4 linked regions of the Homo sapiens genome follow. The protein of the gene in region 1 purifies or fractionates together with the protein of each later gene. This does not show direct contact. Each region holds a gene or a part of one and is shown in the gene's direction. Other genes may lie near its edges.

Region 1 (3,500 bases):
AGACCCTAAGGCTGACCACAGCCAAGGCATGTATTTTGTGGTGCTTCACTTGGAAGTCTTCTAAAGCTTCCTTCTCGTGGGCTGCGTGTGTGCAGTTTATTTCTGCAGTATACAAGCACATGGATACAGAACAGAATGAGGATTCTGGCATCTTAAGGGAAGGACTACTGCTAGTTCCAAAGCAGTATCTTCAGCTGTGCACCTAGAACAGGAAGAGGTAGAGAAGGGTGCCTTTGACCACAAGGCCAGGCTGTAGAATGCCCCAGAAAGCCTGTGCATCAGCATACTTTGGTCCCAGTTTGCAAAGTCATCTCACTAACCTGAGGATGTGTAAATGTGTTACCTGGTGTTTACATTTATCAGAGAAGGGCATTTTAAAAAACATTACACAATACTGTTTTATAGCTATCACATTATAAAGTCCTAGATTGGAATGATAATACGAGTTTTCCTACAAGTTGCTCATATCCACTCACCCTTCAGTTCCACTGTGCTCTTAATCAATGAGGGCCACTTGTGTTTCCTTCTTACCCTCAACCCTGTTTTTGTGTTAATTTCAAAAAAGAATATATCCCGCAGTGTGTGACCTTTGTTTTAGGGCATTCTCTGCCCACCCTGCTGCTTTTGCTCTCTGAATGACAGAGGAGTAAGACTGAAAGCAGGTTCTACTCCTGTGTAGGAAACTAAGACATAGTAAGTGGCTAAACAAGTTTAAAGCTCACACAGATTGTCATTAATGACTGAATACTTGATGCCCTGGAGAAAGCACTGGTTTCCTCGTTCAGATCGAGCCAAGAGTAGGGATTAGATGGCAGTTCTGTACAAAGCACTTGGGATCCAAAGGGCTAGATAACCCACACCCTCCCCTTGAGGAGTTTGTGCTCTGAATGGGAAGATAAGTCGTGAAAGCATGAAAAGTTAAATATAGATTTGATTAACAGTTCAAAATAACAAAATGGAGAACCTTCCCAGATTATGCTGTTGCCGATAGTGTTAGACTCTTGAGTCTTTCCCTGAAGTTCTCTCATCTTTCATTCACTGAATATTTATCCAGTGTCTTCCATGTGCCAGGCATGTACAAGACAGCAAGATCCCAGCCCTGGAAGAGCTCACAGACTTGTGGGAGGAAGTCAAATAATCAACAGATAACTGTATAACCCAATTATAACCCATTTTCCAGAAAAGAACACTTTCTTCATAAAGCCAATTTCGCCAGTGAGGTGTGGCGTAAGATATCACTTGGAAGGATTTTTTACTTGCCATCTTGACAAGTGTTTCTTAAAGATTTCTCTCACCATCTTGGCAAGCGTTCTACTTCTTGACTTGTAAGTGAGGATGATTCTTCAGTGAGCCATAGGAAATCCATTTGATAGGGCGAAACGGCATTTTAAAAATGCAGGTTTAAATTGTTATCCTCATCTATGGTTCTTCATAATTGATGGGGAAAATGGTACAGGCCCAGAGAAATGATATGCTTAGGAGGTAATAAAGCCTGTTGACCTTTGACACTGTTCCATTTTTCTCAGTTTCTAAGTGAAAATGATAACACATACACTTGGAAGCAAGGACTAACCAGAATTTAATCTTTTTCAGAAGCCAAGAAGAAAGCACCCTGTCCTGGACTTGGCTTGTTTTACACATTATTGTCTGCCTTCCTTTTCTCAGTGGGCTCTTTATTTGTTAAAAAAGTGCAAGACGTCCATGCTGTAGAGATTAGTGCGTTTCGATGTGTGTTCCAAATGCTAGTTGTTATCCCTTGCTTAATATACAGAAAGTAAGTATTTTTTAACTGCAAAGTAGAAGATATTAATAAATGTGTGTATATCTTTTCACCTGCCTATAATTACTCTATCTGCTTTATCCATCTCATATACTTACCAGTTCCTATGCCCCTTGGCTCTGCTTAATGAAAAGTCATAAGCATCTACCCACAGAAGATTCTACCATGAGCATAAACCACATACCCAACAAAGTGGGGAGAAAGAAATTTTGTTTTTCACCACCTCCCCTTTTGAAAACAGAGCTTTCTTTGTATAATTCCTCTTGTCTTGTATCACCCTCCCTTCTTTCCTTTGGCATAACTACTGTTTGGAAGTTAAAAAAATGAATGAAAAGAAGTAATAGTGTATCCTAGTATCAGAAGTTTTTTTAGAATGGGCTGCTTTCTTACCAGGGCAAATAGAAGATTATAGTAATAATATTTAGGTATTCCTCAAAAGGTGATGGGGTAACCCTGAGCAAGGTTACTTTCGTATTTAGTTTCCTCTTTTGTAAACTAGAGGGAATGATACTGTGTGACTTCTGCCCTACAAGGTGATTCCAAGGGTCAAATAAGATTTATTATAGGGTGGAGTGCCTTGTGTAGAGTGTAACAGTATATGAAAATTGTCTCTATTCCGCCCTCTCTGTTCTCTCCCAACCCAATTCCTCTTTTCCTTCCCTGTTGAACTCCCTACCCTCCCTGGGTTAAAATTATGCCTCCTTCAACCATTGTAACCTCCATATACCTCAGTGTATTTAGAACCCTGAGAGCGAGACCAGTTGGGTCCTTGGTGGCTGCCTGGCTCTTTGTCTCTTTGGGCAAAAAAGGCTACACCCCAAATGAAAAGCTTTAGTCACTTGTCACCAAAGTCTCCTTGTATCTCTAACATGGTGCGGATTCACTTAGAATAGTTTCACTCCATATCCTGATGATTTGGTGGGAAAAGTGAAAACCTGCTAATACCTGCAAATTTCTGTCAATGCGGACAAGTCACACTATTTTAAGAAATGATGGTAGGGCTTTAGAAATTTCTAAGGGTAGCAGCAGAACACCGATGCTAACATAATCATCTCCCCCATTTTGAAATAAAGATATTGTCAGGGGAAGGACACTGGAAGAATGTTGTTAAAATCCTTGGTCCTCATCTGTTTTGACCCATTTTATGTTTTATTATCATGGAAGACTCTTTGCTTCTCAAAGTATGGGCCAAATGTGACCGTGCTTTCATTTTAACTCCAAGATACCCGGGGTAGCCTAGATGATAATCTAATGAAGTCTAGCCCTGGCACACGTCAGCAAGTTGCACCTAGCCAGGAACCTACACAGAGTGGGTACTTAGTAAATATTTATTGAAAAAGAATTTGAATAGCAGTAATCATACTTTTCCAAACACTACATGTTCTTTTTCAGTGTGTTTTGACTCTTTCCTCATGAGAACAATGAAAACTTGTCTCATATTCAATGACTAAAATAAATTTTAGCAGTTTCAAGTTTTATAGAAAAATTCATGAGATTGAGAATGAGCATTAGCTGGGTCTAAGTTTCCTTACACAGGGCAGCTGAATCTTGACATTGTATTTATCATAAAAGTGATATGTTTATAGAAAATTTGGAGAAAATAAATATAAAGAAAGAAAATTACCTATGAGTTTATCTATTAAGATATAAACATGATTAACATTTAGTTTATTTTCCTTTTTGTCCTTTTTGCAAGCATATATATACATATACGTGGGAT
Region 2 (3,500 bases), on another chromosome or scaffold:
ACTCAACAGTGAGCGGATGGAGCGTGCACACCCAGCCGGCGTGAGGTTTTGTTTTCTGCCACCACCCATCAGTCAGAGCTATTGCAGGAATACCTCTTCTGAATATCTACCTCAGAATGTAAAACGACCTGGGAGAAGAGGCGGCCCCAGGTCCCTACTCCCTTCCCTTCTGACCGTCTCCCCTCTCCCCTCCACTTCTCTCCTTCCTTCCTCGCCTTCCTCCTCCTCCTCCATCCTGCTCCTGCTCCCCTCACACTTCCACTCCCTTCTCTCCCTTCTTCCTTCTTTTTAAAGGGGTTGGAGGCAGGGTAGATACAGTATGATTATATGGAATTGGGTGACTCAGAGGAACAAAAAGGGGAGCTGACTAGTGGGGAGAGATTATTAGTCCCATGACAGGAGATAAGAAAGGACCCCAAGTGTAAGAAAAAACCCTCAACACAGGAACTAGAAAAGGAAGGTGGGGATCAATGCACCCTGCTAGGAAGAAGGGGGAAGACAGATTAACACAGAGGCACTCTGCCTGGAAACTACCTTGAGCTGGAAGCCGAGGGGGATCCAGCGGCAACAATGGAAAACCACTGATTTGAAGTCCAAATAAATGTCACTTGGGGCCAGGCACGGTGGCTCATGCCTGTAATCCCAGCACTTTGGGAGGCCAAGGCAGTCAGATTGCTTGAGCCCAGAAGTTCAAGACCAGCCTAGGCAACATGGTGAAACCCCATCTCTACTAAAAATGCAAAAATTAGCGGGTGTGGTGGTGCATGCCTATAATCCCAGCTACTCGGGAGGCAGAATAATCACTTGAACTCGGGAGGCGGAGGTTGCAGTGAGCCAAGATCATATCATTGCACTCCAGCCTGGACGACAGAGTGAGATTCTGTCTCAGAAGGTCACTTGGTGGCTCATGCCTGTAATCCCAGCACTTTGGGAGGCCGAGGCTGGCGGATCACCTGGGGCTAGGAATTCGAGACCAGCCTGGCCAAGATGGTGAGACCCTGTCTCTACTAAAAATGCAAAAATTAGCCAGGCATGGTGGTGCATGCCTGTAATCCCAGCTACTCAGGAGGCTGAGGCAGGAGAATAGCTTGAACCTGGGAGGTGGAGATTGCAATGAGATGACATCGCCCCACTGCACTCCAGCCTGGCGACAGAGCAAGACTCCATCTCAAAAAAAAGAAAAAGTCATTTGGAAGAGATATGTGTAGTGTTGTTCTGTTAAAAGACTGTCCACTGTTTTCTTTTTCAGTAATTAATGGTCACACACTGTGTTTACGGCTGTTGCTAGAAATTGCAGACAACCCGGAGGCGGTCGATGTGAAAGATGCCAAAGGACAGTAAGTGCGCTCACACGTGGCCTTGGGTTGACATTTCAATCACAGCAGCTACCTGGTTGGTTTCTTAAATCATTACAAGGCTGACTGCGGAACCGAGAAATTGGAGGAATATATTTGGACCAGGACCAATACACAATGAGGTGGCTTTAAGTCACAGTGCGTATATCCAAGAAAAGCATGAAGGAGTGGGTGTGCACATGTCTTGATGAAAGGATCACCTTTTTAAGGGCTGTGGCCATGTTTCCCGGCTCTTATTTATATTCTCTCCTTTGTTCCCTCTTTCCGCCCATTTTTACCTTCTTCTGAAGCTGCTACACCATTGCCATTTTCTAATTAATAAATAGGACAGACCTCATGAGGTTATCTCTATTATTAAAATCCTTCAGATGCCTTTTCTTCCTCAACTTTGCTTTTTCAAAGTAATTTCCTTCTGTTGGCATATTCCCCACCTAATCTTCTCTTACAAATAGGAAATGCAGAGCAAAAGTCAGCAGTGACTAGCCCCAGGCATGTGAATCAGTGTGATAGTCAGAATCTCACCTCCCTCTTGCATCACAACACTTCATTCTTTCCCGGAGACTTGACAGACTTTTCTTTAGGGAAAGAAGCTTTGTGTAAATGAAATCTTTAGCAGAAGTCCAACATAGAATACTACAAAGTAGAGCTGCTCTGATGGAAGCAAGAGGGGCTTCTGCATACACATACTCCCCGCCCTTGATATCTAGTAAATGCTACATGGATCTGAAAATGATGGGATTAACATGAATATTTTGAAAAGGAAGCTTCCCCTGCCTCATCCCTAGGGATCATTCCACTAACAACATTCCATGTGGCCATTAGAGCAGAGGCAGATAGCTTGTTCTGCATATTGTATAGCAAACTGGGGACACTTAGAAAATATTAAGAAATTGTCAAAAGGAGAGGGGAAGAGAATGGGAGAAAGAGAATGTCTTCCTACTGGTAGTGATGAATATTTTTTTAAATCTCCTTTTTAAAAGCCTGCTTTATCTCTCTGCCTAGAACACCACTGATGCTTGCAGTAGCATATGGACATATTGACGCTGTTTCATTGTTACTTGAAAAGGAAGCCAACGTAGACACTGTTGACATCCTAGGATGCACAGCTTTACACAGAGGGGTATGTACATCTTTCTCAGCTCTAGTCAAGCAATTTTTTTAATGAGCTTGTTTTCTTTTTTAGCAAACAATTACAAAGGGCCTACTTTGATTGGATTTTTAGCAAAAAATGTTTAGCAAAAATTGTTTCCTAATACAACCAATTAACCTTATTCAGTCCAAAAGAAATTACAAAATCCTTGGCAAAGGCAAAATAATGGAAGGTTTTGCTCTTAAGATTTCATGTTAGATTGTGATAATAGATGCATGAACACCTACTGCTGGTGAAATTGGTTCTGCTTTCTGACTACAAAATACAAGTATATCATAGAAAATTTGCAGAATATTTTTTTTTAAAGCCCAGAGAAGAAAATCACAATCACCAGTAATCATACCTCCTGGAGATAACCACTATTTGATGTATATTATCTCCAATCTTTTTTCTATATATAGATTTGTTTTAGATTTTAAAAAGAGAATACTGAAGATATCATTTGGATTCTGCTTTTTTCTCTTAGTATATCAAGGATCTTTTTTCATTTCATTTTTTTCTGCATCATGATTTTTAATGCCTCATTGTGTTCAAGTGTCATAGTTTATTTCAATGATTACCTGGTTTTCAGTAGTTATGCAATTTCTAATTGTTTGTCCTTACAAATAATGCCAAAATATGTATCCTGTGGGCAATTATTTGCACACATCTGTTGAAGTGTTTGGTTTTTTTTTTTTAATCTCACTCTTATCACCCAGGCTGGAGTGTAGTGGCACAATCTCAGCTCACTGCAACCTCCACCTCCCAGGCTCAATGATCCTCCCACCTCAACTCCCCCCAGTAACTGGGACCACAGGTGCATGCCAGCATGCCCAGCTAATTTTTGTATTTTCTGTTGAGATGGGGTTTTGCCATGTTGCCCAGGCAGGTCTCAAACTGCTGGGCTCAAGTGATCCTCCTGCCTCCACCTCACAAAGTGCTGGGATTACAGGCATTAGCCACTTGCACCCTCTGAACTGTTTTTTAAAGCATGCCAAATAAACTAAGTAAACACA
Region 3 (4,290 bases), on another chromosome or scaffold:
AGGAGCACCTGCAGATCCTGTTCGAGTTCGCCAAGGAGATGATGCGCGTGGTGGACGACTTCAACAACAACATGCTGTGGTTCAACTTCAAGCTCCGCGTCGGCTTCAACCATGGGCCCCTCACGGCCGGGGTCATCGGCACCACCAAGCTGCTGTACGACATCTGGGGAGACACCGTCAACATCGCCAGCAGGATGGACACCACCGGCGTGGAGTGCCGCATCCAGGTGAGCGAAGAGAGCTACCGCGTCTTGAGCAAGATGGGCTATGACTTCGACTACAGAGGGACCGTGAATGTCAAGGGGAAAGGCCAGATGAAGACCTACCTGTACCCAAAGTGCACGGATCACAGGGTCATCCCACAGCACCAGCTGTCCATCTCCCCAGACATCCGCGTCCAGGTGGATGGCAGCATCGGACGGTCTCCCACAGACGAGATTGCCAACCTGGTGCCTTCTGTCCAGTATGTGGACAAGACATCTCTGGGTTCTGACAGCAGCACGCAGGCCAAGGATGCCCACCTGTCCCCCAAGAGACCGTGGAAGGAGCCCGTCAAAGCCGAAGAAAGGGGTCGATTTGGCAAAGCCATAGAGAAAGACGACTGTGACGAAACAGGAATAGAAGAAGCCAACGAACTCACCAAGCTCAACGTTTCAAAGAGTGTGTGAGGCGGCGCCCACCCGCTGCCCGAGGTGCTCTGTTTGTCGAAACACAGTAATATTTGTATTTGGCTGTTGTGCTTTCCAAGCGCCACAGTTGCCCTCCCCGGACGTGGTGTTATGTGGTCATTTCAGCCCTAACTTCTGTGTGGATCACAGTTATTCAGGGTTCATTTTCATCCATTCTTCCCTTTCGCTCCCTTCCCTGGAAACCCCGCTGCCTCTGGGTCATCCGTTCAGCACGTGGTGGAGAACAAGTGCCTTCAGGGCTGGCCTCGGCCTCGAGTCTCGGGACAGAGGCCGCCAGTGGAGATCATGGCTTTGGGTATTATTTGACTTTTAGAACAAAAGCTGTGGTTAAGATCTCATTTTTATTGCTTTTTCCCACGTCCCACGAGACACTATTTTCGGTTCTCTGGCTAATACCCTGTTTTTGAGTTTATTTTGTTTCTGTCTATGTCACAGTGTTCCTCTACGACCCGACCTCTCTATGTAAGCACACATGCGCACACACACTTGCATTCATGAATCTGATATAAAGTGCCAGTAATCCGCCAAGAGGGGGTGCGAAGGGGGCATGTCACGACAGCTCCGCCACCCCCCATTGCCCACCCGCACTTTCCCGAGCACCGCGCCCCGTGGGCTGTGGGTGAGCCGCGCTCCCTGCACTGAGCGGGTTTAGGGGCTCGCCCACATGCATGCAGGCCAAGACAGCAAATGCCAGCCGGGCACGACGCCCGTGTGCCCAGGCCTCGGGGGTCTCAGAGCCGCCTCTCACCCCCGACCCTCCACCCAGGGGTCTCCCCATCGGGAGTGGAGGTGTTGGTCCTGGAAGCTGACTCATCGGAGAGGGAAATACCAAATAAACATCCGAGGTTGCATTTATTTATTTATTTATTTACCCGGAAGCATGTGCGCTCCCGGGAGGGGTGCTGGGTCCTCAGGGTGGGGGGTCATAGCCACAGGGGAGGGCAGTTCCCAGGAAGGTAACCAGATGTCTCTTTTGTGTTTTGGCCACCTGGGGCCGCCCCCAACCTCCCCACCCCAAGAGGGGTCTGAGTGGGACCTCAAAGCATGGCCAGTGCAATTCTGAGGCTAGGGGAATAGGAGAAGCCCACCAGCTGCCCCTGCCACCCACGGGGGCTCCTCCCTGCCGGGGTCCAGCTCAGAACCACGGGGGTCTGTGCCGGCAGCACCGGTGCCATCTTGGCTTCCACAAATTCCAGAAGTTTCTTGGCTGCCTCCCGCTCTCAGATGGCACAGGGCCTATCAGTGGCAGGATTTAATCTGGGGAGCAAATTCCAGCTCTGAAATGGAGTTCTCACACCGTATCTAGGGACAGAGGCATCTGGATGCAAACGCGGGGTTTGTTAGGGGCGGAATCCCGAGGGTGGTGTGGGGGAGCTCCGTCCGGGCAGTTGGCTGCTGGTCCTGTCTGATTATGTTTTGCCATATTGAGTCTGAAGTTTGTGTGGAAGTGAGCTCGCCCGAGTTGTCCGGTCGGAGTTGTAGCCAGTCTTTCAGGGGACCCCGGGACGCTGATGAGGCCCAGGGTGCACTCCTTGTCAGTCTTGCCCGTTGTCCCTGTGCATTTTGCTTTCCGCTGTCAAATCTCACTGTCTCGTTTTCACACCGCATCAGTCCCCATCATCACTACTCCTCCCCAGAGACATACAGATTGCCCTCCCCGGCATGAAGAAGTCACAATTCTGACCCGCCACCTCTCCAGGGGCGGTGCCTGGGATGGCCACCCATCAGGACAGCCAGAGCCAGGGTCCCGGCGTCCTGAGAGTCCAGGGCACCTCCCCCCATTAGCTGTAAGGTTTCCTGTCAGGTGTGACTGTCAGTTTGCTGGTCTTCCAATACCGAAGAAAGGGTGGTTGTGACAATACCTCTTGCTTCTAAAGAATGTATTATAAAACACCGCAGATTTTTTTTTTTCCTTAAAAAACACTACCTGATGCTTTCCTTGTTCGTGGGGATTGTGGTCACATGAAGCTCTTTCTGCATCAGTATTAAGGTGTATATTTGAATGTCCTCCCCTCCCCTTTCCCCTCCAGGCTGTGTAGCTTTGAGGGGCTGGGCGTTTGCTCACGACCTTGCTGTCTCGCTCAGAACATGCTCCGCAAAGTTCTCCGCACACACTTCTTCCCCATCAAGCCCATTTCCTTCCCCAACCACAAAGGTGTTTGTGATTCCTCACCCCGGGAAACCAAGGAGCTGCAAAGTGGAGTCTGGTTCAGCCCCGTGCAGACTCACCCAGAGCTTAACGTTGTCTTTCAAACACCCTGAGCCTTCCTAAACAGCCAGTGCAGACGTTCTCTCTGGGCCACGAAGCCCCTCGGGTCCTCCCCGTCCCCTGCTCCGATGCATACCTCAGTGCAGAACCACAGAATCTCTGCAGCGGAAACGCCGTGCATCTCTTGTCTGTTGGCAGCGAGCACATCGTGCTGGAGACACGAGTTTCTAAGCAGCTGGCACGAGGGCTGCTGACGGCATGGGTCGTGCTTCAGGGTGGCAATACCTCTTAGGAACTTAGGGCAGGAAGCAATACTTCAGCATTGAATGTGTGTAAATAGTTGCTTTGAGTTGCAATTGCTATTTTCTTCTCAGTCCCAGCTCAGATCGAATTATATATCCATATATATATATATATATATATATATATATATATATATATATATATGGTAAACAAGCACACACAATTTTATCCAATGCAAACAAATGTAGAGCATCAGTTACAAAACCCTCGAATAGCTTGAGAGCCCCACAGGCTCTGCCACACCCGTGACTTCATCCACACTGACGTCACCCGCGGGGGCTCCCCCTGCACATTTGCACACGATCCGGAGAGCCGAAGGCCGCGTGCTTCCTGTCACATGGGCTGTAATCATTTGTAGTTTCCAAAGACACGTCTGCATTTGAATTTCTAGATTTTCGAGGTAAGGAGTTTTTTTTAATTGGTTGTTTGGAAAATCACATCATGCCTAGAATCTGAAATTGAATTAGCAAGAACCGACTGTTTGCATTTTCCATATATCCTTTTATCTGCTCTTTTTAAATTGTTAATTCTAATAATTTCAAAATGCATTCACTGAAGAAATGGACATTAAAATATTCTAAAATTTAAATATATGATGCCTGGTGTTTTCTTATTGAAAAGATGAGCACTGCTTCAGAGAGGAGGGCGGTCTTCCTTGGACAGCTCGTGTTTTCTGCGATCTGTGGCTCACCTGGGTGGGTTTGCCTTTCTTTCACGTCATGACTTCAGAAACAGGGCAAGTAGAAAACCCTGTTTGTGTTTATGTTATTTTTTTAATTGGATCTATTTGCTCCAGTTAACTTGAGTTGAAAAGTATTTATTTTTACACAGAATTTTTTAAACAATAAAAGTAAGGTTGCAGGACAAGTTTTGCTTGTGAGATTTTCCCTGTCAGGCCTCCTAAATAGTTTTCTGCAACATCCTTAGAGAAGGAATTGAGGGGGAAAAAGTAGGTTTTCTGAAAAGGAAAGAGTGATTGCAGGTACACAGATCACTGGGGTCCCAGGTGTTTTGAGGAAGTCACAAAGCCCCTTCAGAATCTGTTTAAAGTCATAGAGCCTCTTCCCAGAAAAACACACATGCCATTTT
Region 4 (3,500 bases), on another chromosome or scaffold:
CAGCCCTTTGGGGAGTCCAACTCAGAAGGACTGCTTGAGGCCAGGAGTTCAAGATCAGCCTGGGAAACAGTGAGATCTGGTGTCTAGTCTCTACAAAAAATTTTAATTAGCTGGGCATGGTGATGTGCACCTGTAGTCCTAGCTATTCTGGAGACTGAGGCAGGAGCATCTCTTGACCCCAGGAGTTTGAGGCTGCAGTGAGCTATGATTGTGCCACTGCACTCCAGCCTGGGTGATATAGCACGACTCTGTCTCTAAACAAAAAACAAAACAAAACGAAGACTGAAGCCAAACTTGACTTTATCTTTATTTACTATAAATGCTAATTTTGAATCATGGTGTTAATTTATTTCACACGTCAACATGGTCCCTTGTTCTTTTGAAACTACACTGGCTTCTATCTTGTTTCAGTTATATGGCGCTACTTTCATGACACCCTACTGCGAAAGTATGCTGAAGAAAGAAATGGTGTCAATGTCGTCAGTGGTCCTGTGTTTGACTTTGATTATGATGGACGTTGTGATTCCTTAGAGAATCTGAGGCAGTAAGAACATATTTCATTACTCTTAAAAATAGGAATTACCATCCAGTAGAAATGGGATTACCATCCAGTTGAGTCAACAGAACCTTTTTTATCCAGTGTCGTATGTTTATGTGTATGACACTTCTGACTACACAGGAAGCCTCTTGAAATATCTGATTAATTTTGATGTTTTGCTCAATGTTCAGTAAAATATTTTTAGGTAAAAAAGTAGTGTTTCTCACCCATTCAGTTCAGTTGAATAATTTTTGCACTCAGTTTAAATGCTGAACTCATTTAAGATCTCTGTGTGGCTGATTGTTAAGATATGATCTTAATATATTGTGAGTCAGAAGATGAAGAACTCTATGGTGTGGCTACAGATATCCTGAGTCTAGGAATGAATAGGGTTATAAAGCTGCAGTGCTTGGAGTCTGGTGGCCTTGGGTGAATGTTATGGCTTTTACCCAACTGTGGCTGGAGGGGCATGATAAAAAGCAACCGTCTGAAGGAAACCATCAGTGGTGCTTTTTTAAAAAAGAGAGGGAAAGAACATCTTGGAAACTGGTTGATCTTTATTGAAACAATAATTACAGCAGTTTGGGAAGCAATTTTGCTGTTAAGTCCGTAGGAAAAAGACTGAGATTCCACTGAGATTCAGCCCCTCTCAGAACTTTCCTACTCTCCCAGGCTGACTTAGATATATGTGACTTACAAAATACATCAGAAAGCACATCAATTTGCAAAGTTACAGTTTTTTACTTTCCCTTGAGGCATAAAGCTGCCTTAGAAGCTGTAGCACTGGAGAGGATACAGAAGAGAACTGCATATGCTTCCTACCCACGGCTTCACCCAGAGCCCTCTGTTTAAATCTGTTTTATAGATTATGTTTCTACATAAGGTCATATTTGAAAACAATGATTCCACTGCCTTAAATTTTGAAAGATGTTGAAAAAACAAACACAGCCTTAAAATAGGAGAATGACTATGAGGTAAAGATGTTTGGGACATCTTTGATAATATACTTCAGTTTAAAAAATTAAGTTATTAAGGAAGAAAATCCAGTTAGAACAAACAATTCATGACAACATGTCCTCTCTGAAGGGGCTGGAATAGAAAATTCCTAACCAGTTCTTTCTCTGCCCACTATTTGTCTATAATCGCCTAGAAGTTAAGACTATCAATAATGGTTTACACTCTTGGTCATAGGTGTTCAAAAATGACATTTTCTTTTCTTTAGTGTTTCAATTTCAATGTCTTTAGGTAGAACTAAAAGAATTCTAAAAGTCAATAAACTTCTACAGAAAATAAAAATTATTTGGAGTGTGTTTATCTGCCTGTCTTCTAATTATTGCTCTCAATCTGGCAGAGTATGTTGAGGTATTGTGATTACTAGCTTCTTATATTTAATTATTTGTTTGAATTTGATTTTTATATGTATTAAAAGCATGCTCTACTGAAATATTCATCAAAAGGAAGATAGTTATTTCTTTCTTAAAATGAATATTGGCATGTTTTACAGAAAAAGAAGAGTCATCCGTAACCAAGAAATTTTGATTCCAACTCACTTCTTTATTGTGCTAACAAGCTGTAAAGATACATCTCAGACGCCTTTGCACTGTGAAAACCTAGACACCTTAGCTTTCATTTTGCCTCACAGGACTGATAACAGCGAGAGCTGTGTGGTAAGTAGCTTTTGTATATTTACTTTGCATGTTGAAAATCTAGACATATGCATATTTGTTTATGTCACCCATCTGACATTACAGTGAGAGAAAGCACAACTGAGTACACATGGACTTCGAAATTATAGGATGCTTTTAAATTTGATCTTTTAAGATGACATATCTTTGGGGAAGACTACCCTTGTCTGCTTTTACTTTTTTCTTTTTTTTTTTTTTTTTTTTAGAGATAGGGTCTTTCTATGTTGCCCAGGCTGGTCTTGAACTCCTGGCCTCTTATGATCCTCCTGTCTTGGCCTCCCAAAGTGCTGAGATTGCAGGTGTGAGCCACCCTGCCTGGCCCCTTTGTCTGGTAAAGATACTAAAAATCAGATCAGAATCAAACTTTGTATGGCTTAACCACTAAAGTCTAGGTTTATCTGAGGTATGGATTTTCTCTTTTTTTAAAACTGGATGTATAATTTCAAAGTGTCAGCACTGTTATAAATTAAAGTTGTTAGACAACATTTCAAATTTTCTGTGTATCACTTAATTATAAAAAATCTTTTCCTTTCTTATCGTATTGTCATCCCAGTGTGTTTGGGAATAATTGTTTTATATTATCTTATTTGCTCAGAATTTTAAAAATCTACATTGTAGATTGGGACATCAAGACTGCATAACATTTTAGCAATTTTTTTTTTTTTTTTGAGACAGAGTCTCACTTTGGCTCCCAGGCTGGAGTGCAGTGGCATGATCTCGGCTCACCGCAAGCTCCGCCTTCTGGGTTCACACCATTCTCCTGCCTCAGCCTCCCGAGTAGCTGGGACTACAGGCGCCCGCCACCACACCCAGCTAATTTTTTTTTTTTTTTTTGAGACAGAGTCTCACTTTGGCTTCCAGGCTGGAGTGCAGTGGCATGATCTCGGCTCACTGCAAGCTCCGCCTTCTGGGCTCACGCCATTCTCCTGCCTCAGCCTCCCGAGTAGCTGGGACTACAGGCGCCCGCCACCACACCCGGCTAATTTTTTTTTTTTTTTTTTTTTAGTAGAGATGGGGTTTCACCGTGTTAGCCAGGATGGTCTCAATCTCCTGACCTTGTGATCCACCCGCCTTGTCCTTCCAAAATGCTGGGATTACAGGCGTGAGCCACCGTGCCTGGCCTTTTTTTTTTTTTTTTTTTGGAGTCTTGCTCTGTCACCCAGGCTGGAAGGCAGTGGCGTGATCTCGGCTCCCTGCAACCTCCGCTTCCCGGGCTCAAGCGATTCTCCTGCCTCAGCCTCCCGAATAGCTGGGATTACAGGCACCTGCCACCCATG

The links. The genes of interacting proteins can lie anywhere in the genome.
Region 2: the proteins of SLC35G1 (region 1) and ANKRD44 purify together in Homo sapiens (affinity purification with mass spectrometry; one large-scale study listed by BioGRID and IntAct). This does not show direct contact.
Region 3: the proteins of SLC35G1 (region 1) and ADCY9 purify together in Homo sapiens (affinity purification with mass spectrometry; one large-scale study listed by BioGRID and IntAct). This does not show direct contact.
Region 4: the proteins of SLC35G1 (region 1) and ENPP1 purify together in Homo sapiens (affinity purification with mass spectrometry; one large-scale study listed by BioGRID and IntAct). This does not show direct contact.

The regions. Positions count from the first base shown.
Region 1 is NC_000010.11:93,896,978-93,900,477, forward strand, and holds part of SLC35G1 (solute carrier family 35 member G1), read left to right. Parts: intron 1-1,593; coding exon 1,594-1,774; intron 1,775-3,500. UniProt on the Homo sapiens protein: May play a role in intracellular calcium sensing and homeostasis. May act as a negative regulator of plasma membrane calcium-transporting ATPases preventing calcium efflux from the cell.
Region 2 is NC_000002.12:197,006,781-197,010,280, reverse strand, and holds part of ANKRD44 (serine/threonine-protein phosphatase 6 regulatory ankyrin repeat subunit B), read left to right. Parts: intron 1-1,249; coding exon 1,250-1,337; intron 1,338-2,357; coding exon 2,358-2,475; intron 2,476-3,500. UniProt on the Homo sapiens protein: Putative regulatory subunit of protein phosphatase 6 (PP6) that may be involved in the recognition of phosphoprotein substrates.
Region 3 is NC_000016.10:3,962,153-3,966,442, reverse strand, and holds the end of ADCY9 (adenylate cyclase type 9), read left to right. Parts: coding exon 1-668; 3' UTR 669-3,790; downstream 3,791-4,290. UniProt on the Homo sapiens protein: Adenylyl cyclase that catalyzes the formation of the signaling molecule cAMP in response to activation of G protein-coupled receptors.
Region 4 is NC_000006.12:131,884,520-131,888,019, forward strand, and holds part of ENPP1 (ectonucleotide pyrophosphatase/phosphodiesterase family member 1), read left to right. Parts: intron 1-411; coding exon 412-544; intron 545-2,042; coding exon 2,043-2,205; intron 2,206-3,500. UniProt on the Homo sapiens protein: Nucleotide pyrophosphatase that generates diphosphate (PPi) and functions in bone mineralization and soft tissue calcification by regulating pyrophosphate levels.